4 linked regions of the Homo sapiens genome follow. The protein of the gene in region 1 purifies or fractionates together with the protein of each later gene. This does not show direct contact. Each region holds a gene or a part of one and is shown on either strand. Other genes may lie near its edges.

What was found.
Region 2: the proteins of AZIN1 (region 1) and KLC2 purify together in Homo sapiens (affinity purification with mass spectrometry; 3 studies listed by BioGRID and IntAct, with this or other methods). This does not show direct contact.
Region 3: the proteins of AZIN1 (region 1) and KIF5C purify together in Homo sapiens (affinity purification with mass spectrometry; 2 studies listed by BioGRID and IntAct, with this or other methods). This does not show direct contact.
Region 4: the proteins of AZIN1 (region 1) and MSRB3 purify together in Homo sapiens (affinity purification with mass spectrometry, with the first as the bait; one large-scale study listed by BioGRID). This does not show direct contact.

The regions. Positions count from the first base shown.
Region 1 is NC_000008.11:102,829,664-102,833,163, reverse strand, and holds part of AZIN1 (antizyme inhibitor 1), read left to right. Parts: coding exon 1-108; intron 109-3,227; coding exon 3,228-3,343; intron 3,344-3,500.
Region 2 is NC_000011.10:66,260,703-66,264,202, forward strand, and holds part of KLC2 (kinesin light chain 2), read left to right. Parts: intron 1-1,022; exon of another isoform or gene 1,023-1,039; coding exon 1,040-1,270; exon of another isoform or gene 1,271-1,310; intron 1,311-1,420; coding exon 1,421-1,490; intron 1,491-2,111; coding exon 2,112-2,334; intron 2,335-2,957; coding exon 2,958-3,045; exon of another isoform or gene 3,046-3,148; coding exon 3,149-3,250; intron 3,251-3,343; coding exon 3,344-3,500. UniProt on the Homo sapiens protein: Kinesin is a microtubule-associated force-producing protein that plays a role in organelle transport. The light chain functions in coupling of cargo to the heavy chain or in the modulation of its ATPase activity.
Region 3 is NC_000002.12:148,878,227-148,881,726, forward strand, and holds part of KIF5C (kinesin heavy chain), read left to right. Parts: intron 1-3,500. UniProt on the Homo sapiens protein: Microtubule-associated force-producing protein that may play a role in organelle transport. Has ATPase activity. Involved in synaptic transmission. Mediates dendritic trafficking of mRNAs.
Region 4 is NC_000012.12:65,460,183-65,463,682, forward strand, and holds part of MSRB3 (methionine-R-sulfoxide reductase B3 isoform 2 precursor), read left to right. Parts: intron 1-2,972; coding exon 2,973-3,140; 3' UTR 3,141-3,500. UniProt on the Homo sapiens protein: Catalyzes the reduction of free and protein-bound methionine sulfoxide to methionine. Isoform 2 is essential for hearing.

The sequences.
Region 1 (3,500 bases):
TTAAGATAATTTCAGAACCCGGAAGCTACTATGTGTCTTCTGCATTTACACTCGCAGTTAATATCATAGCAAAGAAAGTTGTTGAAAATGATAAATTTCCCTCTGGAGGTAAGTTATAAAGTTTATAGTTTTATTTTTGTTGGTAGATAATTGCAGTTAGTCTGGAAATGAGCAGATGGTCATGAAGTTGTAGGTGGTTTTCAGCTTTTAAAAATCTTAAAACTGGCCGGGCGTGGTGGCTCACGCCTATAATCCCAGCACTTTGGGAGGCAGAGCCAGGTGGATCACAAGGTCAGGAGTTCGAGACCAGCCTGGCCAATATGGTGGAAACCCCATCTCTACTAAAAATATAAAACTTAGCTGGTCATGGTGGCGCACACCTGTAATCCCGGCTACTCGGGAGGCTGAGGCACAAAAATCGCTTGAATCCGGGAGGCAGAGGTTGCAGTGAGCCAAGATTGTGCCACTGGACTCCAGCCTGGGTGACAAGAGTGAGACTCCGTCTCAAAAAAAAAAAAAATCTTAAAGCCAAGGTCCCATTCCGTAAGACTTCCAAATCCAACTTTCTTGGTACTGATGTTTAGATACGTGTGTTTTAGATAAATGTCTAGCAGATGATTAATTCTCATCCATTATTCAGAACTACTTTTATTGTGATCTTTTCTGTTCTCCTTACCTCACATGGGTCAGAGGGAGGCTCTGTTTTCACACTTTCTCACATAAGGGCCACAAAGAGTCCCTGTAATCTAACTCAAGTCAAACCAACAAAAAGGCACTAGACAGTACCATCTTGTTGGCTAATATTGTAGGAAATACTGTTTTACATTAAGAAGACTTTTTTTTTTGGCTGTGGACTAATCCACAGCCCATAGGAAAGTTGTCCATTTCCCCAATATTGTCTTTTTTTTACAGCTTTGTTTTTCCTTGCTTAGAATCCAGTCCAGGACCACATTGAATTCGTCATTTCTCCTTGAATCTAGATAAAGTTTCTCAGCTCATTACTTTGTATTTTTTAACTTTGACATTTTTGAAGAGTAGAAATTTCATAGCTGATCCTTAGTTTGGGTTTGTTGGATGATTCCTCATGATTAATTTTTTAGGCTATGCATTTGGGGCATGAAGTCCACTAAAGTGTTACTCTGTTCTTCTCACTTCATCATGTTAGGAGGCACATGATAGTGGCCAATTCTAATATTGATGATGCTAGGTGTTTTTTCTTGTTGTTTTGTCGCCCAGGCTGGAGTACAGTGGCTCCATCAGGGCTCATTGCAGTCTCCACCTCCCGGCTTAAGCAGTCCTCCTACCTTCAACCTCTTGCATAGCTGGGACTACAGGCATATGCCACCATGCCTGGCTAGGTTTTTTTCTATTTTTATTTTGTAGAGGGTTTCGTCGTGTTTCTCAGGCTGGTCTCAAACTCCTGAGCTCAAGTGATCCACCTGCCTCAGCCTCCCAAAGTGCTGGGATTACAAACTTGAGTCAATACACCTGGCCTTATGATTTTTTTTTTTTTTTTTTTTTTGAGACTGTTTTGCTCTTGTTGCCCAAGCTGGAATGCAGTGGCATGATCTCAGCTCACTGCAACCTCCACCTCCCAGGTTCAAGCAATTCTCCTGCCTCAGCCTCCCAAGTAGCTGGGATTACAGGTGCGTGCCACCACACCCGGCTAGATTTTTTTTTTTTTTTTTAATTTAAATGCTAGTTTTGAGCACTTGTTTAAGGTTGTGTCAGGCAGGTTTCTTTCCATTGTGAAGTGGCAAGTTTAAATTAGAGACTCTGTAAACTACCTGTTTTTAACCAGATTTTCACCCCATTAGTTTTAGCATCTATTGTTGAATTTCTAACTTCATTATTGTTTATATTAGTTGGCCTTTACTTAAAGAATATCTTTTCCTTCCCTCCTGTTTATGAGTTTAGACTCATAGATCTTTATTCAATAGGTTTATATAATCTGTTACTCTTATTTTTCCCTTGACATGTCTCCATTATTCTCAGAGCAATTCGTTATTTTTTGGTATATCAAGATGTTCCAGGCTCATTTTAACCTTTTAAATGAGCCTCAGTCCCGTAATCAGTTGTTTCTCCAGGGAGCCTTGGTTTGTTTTCGTGGAGAGTGATATTTTAAAAACCTGAAAATTAGTATTGGTTGTGCTAAGAGTAGAGTAGCTGTGAGTAGAATGGGCGTTTTCAAAGGTTTCAAAGTGAGGTGAGAGGATCTATTGATCCCTGAAGCTCGAGGCTGCGGTGACCTGTGATCACGCTACTGCACTGTAGCCTGAGTAACAGTGAGGCCCTGTCTCTACACACACACACAGATTCCCACTGGCAGTGTATACATGTGAGCTCTGGTTGCTCCTCCTGCTCTCTGATGTTTTGTAGTGTCAGTCTTTAAGTTGATCCAGTCAGTAGGTTGGTGGTAATGGTAGTCCATTGTGGTTTTAATTTGCATTTACCTGATGACTAACGATGTAGAGCACTGTTTTCTTTTTCTTTTTCTTTTCTTTTTTTTTTTTGTTTTTGAGACAGGGTTTTTGCTCTGTTATCCAGGCTGGAATGAGTGGCACAATCTCAACTTTTATTTTTAATTCTACATTCAAACACATATTTAACTCCTTGTGCATATATTGCCTTCCCCTTGCTGATTTGAAAAGAAACTAAAAAGTGTTTTTCCTTGCTGCTTCATTTCCTCTTTTTTTGAAACAGCAACTATCAGAAAGTCTTCTAGAATCTTAATACTTTTTTCTTTTTTTTTTTTTTTTTTTGAGACAGGGTCTCATTCTGTCACCCAGGCTGGAGTGCAGTAGCACAGCCTTGGCTCACTGTCTCACTGTCTTACTGTAACCTCCGCCTCCCGGATTCAAGGGATTCTAGTGCCTCAGCCTCCCAAGTAGCTGTGATTACAGGCATGCACCACCACACCTGGCTAATTTTTGTATTTTTAGTAGAGATGGAGTTTTGCCATGTTGTTCAGGCTGATCTTGAACTCCTGACCTCAAGTGATCCTCCCACCTCAGCCTCACAAAGTGCTAGGATTACAGGTATGAGCCACCGCATCCAGCCCTAGAGCACTCTTTTCTTGTGCTCATTGGTTATCTTCCTTTGTGAAATGCGTGCTCTATGTGTCTTTTTAAGTTTAAATAGTTTGAGAAATGTGAAAATTACATTAATTTGTTTCATATGAGCCATTTTATTAAAAATTCATTTTCCCCTTTCCTGTTTTATTCCAGTAGAAAAAACCGGAAGTGATGAACCAGCCTTCATGTATTATATGAATGATGGTGTTTATGGTTCTTTTGCAAGTAAACTGTCTGAGGACTTAAATACCATTCCAGAGGTTCACAAGGCAAGTTTTATCAGAAATATCAAAACCTATTTGGCATTTTATAAGCTGAGCTGTTATTTTTAAGATGCTTCCCAGTTTTTTGAAAAACATCTTAGAATGGGGAAAAATGTCCTTTTTGAGGATTTGCGTTCTTCTGGTGGAGTCCCTTTTTTAGTTT
Region 2 (3,500 bases), on another chromosome or scaffold:
TCTCCTGCCTCAGCCTCCTGAGTAGCTGGGACTACAGGCACGCGCCACCACACCCAGCTAATTTTTGTATTTTTGGTAGAGATGGGGTTTCACCATGTTGGCCAGGATGGTCTTGAAATCCTGACCTCGTGATCTGTCCGCCTCAGCCTCCTGAAGTGCTAGGATTACAGGCGTGAGCCACCGTGCCTGGCCAAAAAATTTTTTAAATTAGCCAGCTGTGGTGGTGTGCACCCGTAGTCCCAGTTACTCAGGAGGCTGAGGGGGAAGGACCACTTGAGCCTGGAAGGTAGAGGCTGCAGTGAGCTGTGACGGTGCCATAGCCCTTCGGCCCAGGTGACAGAGTGAGACATTGTCTTAAATTAAAAAAAAAAAAAAAAAAGAGAGAGCAAGAAGGGAGGTTGGACCCTAGGCAGGAAGGCAGGAAGAGACTGGAAACTAAGGAAAGGAGTTGCAGAGGCTGGGGAGAGGGGTGGGGGTTGAGGCCAAGGCCTTTGGATACTTTTCCTGCCCCTGTGGCTCCTCATGCCAACTGAGCATTTGGGACACATGCCCCTTCCCTACCTGGGAGCTGCAGAAAGGCAGGGGATGCTGTGGCCCCTCAGCAGAAGTGGGGATGGAGTCTTTGGGTGGTCCTTCAGCCATCTAGCAGAGTTCTGTGGGCAAGCGCTAGCCCTGAGGCAGGGAGCAGTAACCTACTGGCTGTGGCAGCAGAGGCTTGAGTACAACCCAGGGAGAGACGAAGGAAGGGGCTAGTAGCTCAGGGAAAGCACAGCACCCCAACTAGCCCTTTTGGGGTTCTCCTGATCCTAGAAGGAAGGAACTGGGGACTCCCAAGCCTCCTGGGTTTGGGCTTTGCATTATGGTGTGTCGGGGGCCTTGAGGAGATTCTCCCTTGACAAGCAGAGAAAAGACCTGCAGCTCCTCACTGTAGGGCCAGGCCTGGCCCTTCACTGGGTGCCAGAGCCCAACTAGGCCCAGGCTACAGTCATAGGCGAGGGGGTCGACAGGCCTCCGACCCTTACCTGGGCTGGTTGCACAGGTGATCTTGGCATTGTCGAGCCACCTGGGGGCTGTAGAATCAGAGAAGCAGAAGCTGCGGGCGCAGGTGCGGCGTCTGGTGCAGGAGAACCAGTGGCTGCGTGAGGAGCTGGCGGGGACACAGCAGAAGCTGCAGCGCAGTGAGCAGGCCGTGGCCCAGCTCGAGGAGGAGAAGCAGCACTTGCTGTTCATGAGCCAGATCCGCAAGTTGGATGAAGACGCCTCCCCTAACGTGAGCTCCTACCATGGTCACTGTTGCCCAGCAAGGAGGCCTGGGAGCAGGGAGGGGCAGCATGGAGCAGATTCGGCTCCACCCCAGCCCATGGACACCCCGGCTGCCCTGTGCCTCCTTCCCTGATGCTCATCCTGTCTTCCTTCCCAGGAGGAGAAGGGGGACGTCCCCAAAGACACACTGGATGACCTGTTCCCCAATGAGGATGAGCAGAGCCCAGGTGCGGATGGGCAGTTCTGGAGTGGGGGAAGGAAAGGTTGTGTGAACTCTTGGTCCTTGGGACCGAGTGGCTGCCATGTTCCTTCCTGCCTCACTTCTGATCATGACATCCTAGTGTGTTAGAGCTTCAAGAACAGTTGTACGTGCTGCTGCTTCTCACATCCCCCCAGCTCTGTGGTGAGCAGACATCACAATTAGCTGTGGAGTCACCAGCCTGGCTTCCAGTGCTGCTCTGCCACTAGCTTCCCTGACCCTTGGGAGAGTTCTCTTCCTCTCCGAATCACCTCTGAAGGAGGCACATGCAGACAGCCACAATGGGGCCAGTGCCTGCTTTGCTGATGGTACTGGTTATGCATCGGGGCCTCCACTCTGTACACAGGGACACAGGCTCAGAGGTTAGGCAGCTTGCCCCAGGACACAGAGCCTGAAGTACTGGAGCTGGGCCTCTACCCCCTCTTTCTATGGGGTAACTAGACCCATTCTATAAATGGGGAAACTGAGAAAGAGTGGTTAGTGACTTGCCCAGGGCCATGTGTCAAGTGGCTCAAAGGCACAGCTGGCATGTGCCATCCCAGTCCAGTGGGCAGATGGTACATCTGACCTCCTGCCCTTGGCCCTGCAGCCCCTAGCCCAGGAGGAGGGGATGTGTCTGGTCAGCATGGGGGCTACGAGATCCCGGCCCGGCTCCGCACCCTGCACAACCTGGTGATCCAATACGCCTCACAGGGCCGCTACGAGGTAGCTGTGCCACTCTGCAAGCAGGCACTCGAAGACCTGGAGAAGACGTCAGGCCACGACCACCCTGACGTTGCCACCATGCTGAACATCCTGGCACTGGTCTATCGGTGAGGACTCTCTGGGGGTGCCCAAATTCTTCTGGAAGGCTCCAGCCCTGGATCACTAACCCTTGGTGCCTGCTGTGGGCCAGGACTCGTGGCCCACCTGCGTGGAGCTGGGCTACAGATGCAAGTAAAACTGTCTAGTGTAAGAGAGAGGCTTGGCCAGAACTGGGGAGGGACTGCACATGAGGACTCCAGGGGTCCTGGGGAGTCCACACAGCTTCTCCAGGCACCAAGGCTGGAGGAGGGGCTTTGCCAGAAAGTGAGTTTGCCCAAACACAAGAGGGCTAGAAAAGGTTCCCATGGCAAAAAGCCAGCATGAGCAAAGGCACTGGGACCTGGAGAGCAGGACACGCTAAAGGGGCAGCAGGAGAGCCATGTGGCGCCCAGGAATGCTAGGCACCAGGCAGTCGGTGGGACCCCAGCACTGCGCACCCCAGCCAATTGTGAGAAAACTGCCTACAGCCCTTGGAGCTTGGAGAGCAGGAGCTGAGCAGGTCTCCCCACACTCTGGGTCTCACTCTGTCATACACACTCAGTGAGTACAGGAGTGACCACAGGGATTGCAGACCATTGGGGAGGGCCTTGAGCTGGAGGACAGCCCTGACCATGCTCCTACCTGCTCCCAGGGATCAGAACAAGTACAAGGAGGCTGCCCACCTGCTCAATGATGCTCTGGCCATCCGGGAGAAAACACTGGGCAAGGACCACCCAGCCGTGAGTGAGGGTTGGGTGGGAGGTGGGGGCTGTGCCCCATCCCCTGCAGGTCCCAGAGTCCTGCAGGGCCTGAGTCAAGAAGCTTCCGTTCTCCCACCTCCAGGTGGCTGCGACACTAAACAACCTGGCAGTCCTGTATGGCAAGAGGGGCAAGTACAAGGAGGCTGAGCCATTGTGCAAGCGGGCACTGGAGATCCGGGAGAAGGTGGGAACAGGCAGGGCTGGGCAGGCTGGGGGTCTGGGAGGCAGGGGCCCGGGCAGCCCTGAGCCCAACCCCTGGCTCCCTCTCCCATCCCAGGTCCTGGGCAAGTTTCACCCAGATGTGGCCAAGCAGCTCAGCAACCTGGCCCTGCTGTGCCAGAACCAGGGCAAAGCTGAGGAGGTGGAATATTACTATCGGCGGGCACTGGAGATCTATGCTACACGCCTCGGGCCCGATGACCCCAATGTGGCCA
Region 3 (3,500 bases), on another chromosome or scaffold:
CCCTTCCAGTCCCTAAATCCCCCTGCTTCAGGGTAACCATGATTCTCACTTCTGATGCTATTAGTTTTGCTTGTTTCTTTTTAACTTTATATTACATAAAACCATAGAGTATGTTCTCTTTTGTGTGTGGTTTCTTGGGATTAAGTGTTATGCTTGTCAAATTCATCCTCATTGTTTTGTAGTATTCCATGATATGAATATACTACAATTTGTCTACTGACTGTTGATGGATATTTGGATAGTTTCCGGTTTGGGGCTAATATGGCTAGTGCTGCTATGAACATTCGTTTATGTATATTTTGGTGAGTGCATGTACAGAATAGAAGACTGCCAGATACTGAAGGGTTTGGGAGTTGGGTTGGCATGTGCCAGGATCCTTCCCATTCCTAATTGATAATGTGGCACTAAAGGAAATGAGGGTTCTGGCAGTCTGTATCATGCCATATGCAATGAGTAGAATGGTCCCAAGTCAATTCAGTTGGAGCCGGCTGACATGGCTCAGTTGCAAGTGAAAACTGTCTGAGATGTACACAACCTTCCTTAGTTCTAGGGGCACAGACTGTGGATGACCAAAGAAGCCCAGATCATCCAGAAATATGTCACCTTCAAACAGAGACAAGTAAAGAATGAATTTTGGTGGAGTTATCTGTTAGTCCAAATTCAGAATCCCAGAAATTCTTTGTGTTTTTGAAACTGGGGTCATTTTTTCCCTTAAAGTTCTGTTTGTTATGGAGATATATTCCAAGAAAGAGATTTTACAGGTGGAGTTTCTAGATTTCTCTTTTATGAAAATGTCCTGTTTGGGAGAAATGTTCTCCATCACTCCTGCAGTTTTTCAGCTTTGTGCAAAGCTGTCTTTCTCTGACCACACCAGCCACAGTCTTTCCCCACTTTGAACTCCTATAGCATTTGTTTTGTATATGATCTCCCAAGTTTTTTGCCTTGGATTATTATTAGCTTTGGTCATATGCCTAATGACATTGTAAGCCATGTTTAGAGACAAGAACTGTGCATGTTTTGCTCCTTTATACTTCCCAGGGCTTTGTCTGTAGAAGGCACTTAGTAAATATTTATCGATCTCTCTGTGAATTCTGGAAACTTTACTTTGGTATATTTAACATAGTTTACAGAGTTTTTATTGGCCGTAGGCTGTGGGGAGTAGTTAAAAAATAATTTTAAAGATAAGTGCTGTTTCTCTGAGTGGGCCTGGTAAGATAGCATATATAATACTTAAAATGATATAAGAAAATTGGGAAAGAACTGCATTCAGCTTTGGCAAAAATTAGAAGAGCTAAAGATGCTGATGGTGAACTAGAAGTAGAGGGTGGGGGTGGGTAAGTGATTAGAAAAGAGGCTCCCTCCCATAACACATTAATTTTTCAGCAAAAATATTGGATTTACAGCATTTCTCAGAGTACTCCATTAGCTGCTAAAAGTCCTGGTGAGTCATCCATTACTTTGGGTTCTGCCTATTGGTTTTGAAGCAACTGTATTAATGGAAGCTCTCTGACATGGTGAGTTCTCAGTAAAGTTCTTTGAAATGGATTTTCACACTTCACTTTCCTCTTATTGGGCTTTTCTCTTGTTTGCAGTCCTGAGAAAGCAGGTCTTGTTAAAGATGAGTGCTTCCTCCTGAGGGCCTAAGAGCCAGAGCAAAACATCAGCCACAAACCCTAAGCTGGAAAGTGGCCCCAGTCTTCAGAAGCTTAGATTATTTCTTGGCAGTAGATGGATGGGGAAGGGGCCTGGAGACCAAATCCGCGCCTGAGTTAGGATTTTAGAGATTAAGTGAAGAAATACAGCTACACCTTAAAACTTTTCTTCTTTCCACAGTAATGGTCTTCCAAAGCAATAACATTAAAACAATTTTTTCAAATTTACACGCAGTAATACCACTTTTTTTTTTTTCTTTGAGACTGAGTCTTGCTCTGTCACCCAGGCTGGAGTGCAGTGGTGTGACCCTGGCTTATCGCAACCTCTGCCTCCTGGGTTCAAGCAATTCTCCTGCCTCAGCCTCCCAGGTAGCTGGGACTACAGGCGTGTGCCACCACATTCAGCTAATTTTTGTATTTTTAGTAGAGATGGGGTTTCACCATGTTGGCCAGGCTGGTCTTGAACTCCTGACTTCAGGTGATCCACCTGCCTTGGCCTCCCAAAGTGCTGGGATTATAGGCATGAGCCACCATGCTCGGCTTGTTTCCAGTTTGGTATGATTATGAATAAAGCTGCTATAAACCTTTGCATATAGGTTCTGTGTGAGTATACATTTTTATTTCTCTTGGGTAAATATCCAGGAATGGGATTGCTGGGTTGTAAAGTAACCATACGGTTAACTCTGTAAGAAACTGCCAAACTGTTTTCTAAAGTGGTTGTACCAATTTGCATTTCCATCTAAAAGCAGTAACATTTTAAACCAAAGTAAGTTTATTTAGTCACTTTGTCTAAGTGCATTCTAGTCTAGTAGTGTCAGGATGTATCAGTTCTTCATTCCTCTGTGCCCTAAATTCAGAGATGTTTATATCACCTGAAATGGGTTAGTGGTTTCCTTCACATGTACCCTGTGAAATCATGGACTGAGGGAACATCATAGAGAGCTGTAATCTGGCGTGTGTCACTGAGGCCACTCACTATTCACAGTAGGCACACAGTCAGTGAATGGGGTGGGTAGAGGTAGCAGGAAGGGTGAGACAAAACCGAGTGTAGATTCACTAGCTAAAAAAAAACCTAGTTTTTTTTTTTTTTTTTCAAGTTGCTGAGCTTTCCTGGGCATGAGTTTTCTTGTATTGAAAGTGCAGATAATAATTACTTACCTCACAGGGTCATTTGGATGAAATGAAATGAAGTGGTGAGAGAGTGTCTGGCACAGAGAAAATGCTCAATAGGCGCTGATTACCTCCTATGTCTCCTGTTCCCTTGGTGACCTTCCTCATGTCAACATTAGCTTTGGCCCCACAAATTAGTGCCCCTTCTGGCTATCCCCTGAAAACCCTTCTTGCATTACCATTTCTTAGGCATTTGTTCACCCCATTCTCCTGGTTGGAATACCCACTGTTTTCATCTATTTCTGGTATTTCTAACTATCCTTGAAGGCAAAACTCATATTTCATTTAGCTCTAGACTACGTTAGCTGTTCCTTTGTGATCATGCATGTTTGTGTGTGCGTGTGCGTGTGTATATCTTCCCATGTAGCTTTTTCTTTTTCTTTTTTTAATTAAATTTTTGTCTCCTTTACTGTAGTTGTGTAATTGCTTAGTAAATGTATCTTGACTGAAGGTTTTTTTTCCCCCTTTCCCTGCCTGAAATCACGACTCCATAAATGCCAATTTCTGCATTTCTGTAAATAACTTGGGTATCACTGGAGACTTCCCTCTGCCTCACCTGTGCTTGTCTGGCCCGACTCCCCTATTTAATGATGTTTTCCATTCTCAGCTCTTCTTCCCATTCACAGTTGGAAACCTCCCCCTACCTTTGATTTCCCTTTAGTCCTTACCTCTAAATCA
Region 4 (3,500 bases), on another chromosome or scaffold:
TGTACTGAGAAACCCCAACACATTGCCAGTTGGCTGGGGCCTGGGAGGCAGAGCTTGCAGGCAGCTAAAGAAACAATGCTCCTCTGGCAACTTCCATTTATCCTCCCAGCTTTCCCAAGGCTAGAAGCTGCAAAGAATGGGCTCCGTGCGCGTACTCTCAGGGAGGAGCCTTCAAGGCTTGTGCGCTTTTCAAAGAAACCGGGTAACAGTCCTTTCTGGGAGACTAGGTTTACCTGGGAGGAGGCTCGAATGGCACTGCGTGGTTAGGCTTCCCTCAGACAAATGGCTTTGCCGGCAGTGGGGCGGGGATGTATGTGGTGCCACAGATACAGATGAACACCTTTCTATGTTTTGAGATGATGCTCTTCCCTTAGTAACCTAAGGCTGCTATGACTCTTCCAGAACACCCTGTGGCAAGTATAATGAAGCCATAACTATCATTTTCAGGGGACTCAAACCGTTTCTGAGGATTTTTCTACCCCCATCCTCAACCCATATATTTGTTAGCAAATAGTTTTCATAGTCTTTTTCTAACTATAATTTCTCTTCCTCACTTTTTTTTTTTTTTTTTGCCTTGGATTAGGGACACACCTAGAATCAGTGTTTTCCTTTCTATTTAACCAGAATACTAGTACCAGATTAGCAAATGAAACTACAGGTTGAAAACTCACCCAGTTCAACAGATTCAATTACTGTAATTTGGATTTTTAAAATATGATTTGGGAAATTAAGACCATATAACTCATTCTTAAACACCTTCAAATATATCCTCACTATGCTTTATTTTTGGTGTAGAATAAATAGAAATATTTTCTAAAGATGCTCAAGAGATTATTAGCAAAGGCAATATCATTTATTTTTCCCAGATAGCTGCATTCTCTCATTAAACACACACACACACACCCCTAAGGCTTTTAGGTATATGAAAACTTCATCTCTTAAATGCCAAGTGATCCAAGTGCTGGAGCTGCATCTGAGATCAGTAATTGTGCACACACACTGGTCACTGAGAGCACTGGTTCCTGTTGGACAGCACCTTGACTATTTTGGTAGGCAGAAATGGGTGTTTCCTGTGTCCGTTGGGCAAGCATATGTATTTTTACTGGTTCATCTTAGCTGTGGATGCCTAAAAATTTGGCATCAATTGTTTATAGAAAGGAAAAGCAGTCTGACCTGTCAGCCTTGATATTACCTAAACCTGCATCGAATGTGGTAAAATAATACAAGATTTGTTTTTTAGGCCTGTTTCATATTTTCTAGGCAATAGATCAAATCAGTTCAGGGTTCATTTTTAGCTCTTTAATAAACTGACAGAGTTTGCTGGCAGTGAAATGAGAATGCACTTTTAACATGGAAGTGCCATACAGTCAAAGTTGCTATTTCTGCTATTTATTAATAACTAGGGAATACTTGAGAATTGAGCTTAGCATGTTCAACAGGGAAACTAAGATTCTAGTGCTTTTCATTGTAATGAGCACTTTCTCTCATTTTTCTCTCTTCATCTCCATTTGGTGTCTCATCCCCAGTCCCTTGTGAATTCATACTCTTTCCTTGAAACTTATAAGTGTTTTATACACCAAATCAGCACAGTGAGAATTAACAAATCATTGATATGCTTTTTCTCTCATACTCTTACCTAAATCTTGACTCTTCCCTCTTCTCGAAATGCCCTCCCCTAGAGATACACTTCTTCCAGGTCCTTATTCCAAAGTCACCCCAGGTAGGCCTCTTCTGACCACCCTATCTAACATTTCATATCACCTTCCTTTTTTGCTCCCTTAGCATTGCTTTCTACCTTCCATGCTTTATAGTTCACTTGTTTTCTTGTGTACTGTCTGTCTCTCCCACTAGAATGTAAGCTCTATGAGGCCAGGGATTGTTGCCTGTACTCCAGAGTCTAAAACAGTGCCTGGCATATAGCAGGCACTCCATTAATAAACGAATGAATGGAAGTCATTTACCCCAGGCTTTGGTTTCTTTGATCCATGATAAATGATGGATTTTCACAGCCTGCTTGAATATGGTGCACCAGTGTCTCCATCTCGTTCGCCCCATCCCTGATGGAAAAGGGCAGTAGATATCTAAGTGTGACATGTACCTTCATCTCCTGGAGCTGTACCCAGCATCAACGCAGTTAGTGTAGGGGTGTTCACTGAGCCAGCCTTTTTGGAGAAACTTTCTCTGGGCTTTATTTCTCTCAAACACCAACATGATGTTCCTTCTGCCTCTGTCTAGACCTTAGGTCTCTTCTTCCCCAGCTTTTTGAATAGTCAGTAAAATTGATTTTAGCTAAACAGCTTATTGCTTTTCTTTATATTAGAGTTCATTTGGATAAAGAAGCCAGCATGACACTACTTGTTGGAAGCCAGGAAAAAAACAATTGTGTGTGCTAGAGATGTTTCCTTTTGCTACATTTGCAGCCCTGGTGACTGTGACATAAATCTATTGAGCCTTGCCATTGCTTCGCTGGGTTCCAAGAACATCCAATACTTGTCTGATGTTAAGTTTTACTGCCCATGAAAGCAAACATCACCTCTGTCATGGCCAGTTAAACAGTATCTTTTCAGTGGACTTCTGCATATCTGAAACCCACCCATCCAAAGCCAAAAGTAATGCCGGGGGAAAGATTTTATGCTGCCATGTTTCTTACAAGGGAAGATCAAGGGTCAACTTGATTCATAAAATTACTGCAGTCATTTTTCAGCTGGCTGAGAGACTTCACAGATCAAAAAATACGTGGCTCCTAAATGATTTCTGATATGCACAATTCTAGTGTTTTTTGTTCTCAGCATGTGGCGCAAAGCCTGCCAGAAACCATCTTTGCGGCTATTGACAGGCGGATTAGAAATCATCCACGATGGTTTCCTTCATTTCTCTACAGGCTGGTCATCCATTTAAACTGCTTAATGTGAATTCCTCTCAAAGCCTGCTTTGTACATGCTTTTCCCTGACGTTTTGTTCTTCTCTTTCAGTGTGGTGCTCACCTTGGGCACATTTTTGATGATGGGCCTCGTCCAACTGGGAAAAGATACTGCATAAATTCGGCTGCCTTGTCTTTTACACCTGCGGATAGCAGTGGCACCGCCGAGGGAGGCAGTGGGGTCGCCAGCCCGGCCCAGGCAGACAAAGCGGAGCTCTAGAGTAATGGAGAGTGATGGAAACAAAGTGTACTTAATGCACAGCTTATTAAAAAAATCAAAATTGTTATCTTAATAGATATATTTTTTCAAAAACTATAAGGGCAGTTTTGTGCTATTGATATTTTTTCTTCTTTTGCTTAAACAGAAGCCCTGGCCATCCATGTATTTTGCAATTGACTAGATCAAGAACTGTTTATAGCTTTAGCAAATGGAGACAGCTTTGTGAAACTTCTTCACAAGCCACTTATACCCTTTGGCATTCTTTTCTTTGAGCACATGGCTTCTTTTGCAGTTTTTCCCCCTTTGATTCAGAAGCAGAGGGTTCATGGTCTTCAAACATGAAAATAGAGATCTCCTCTG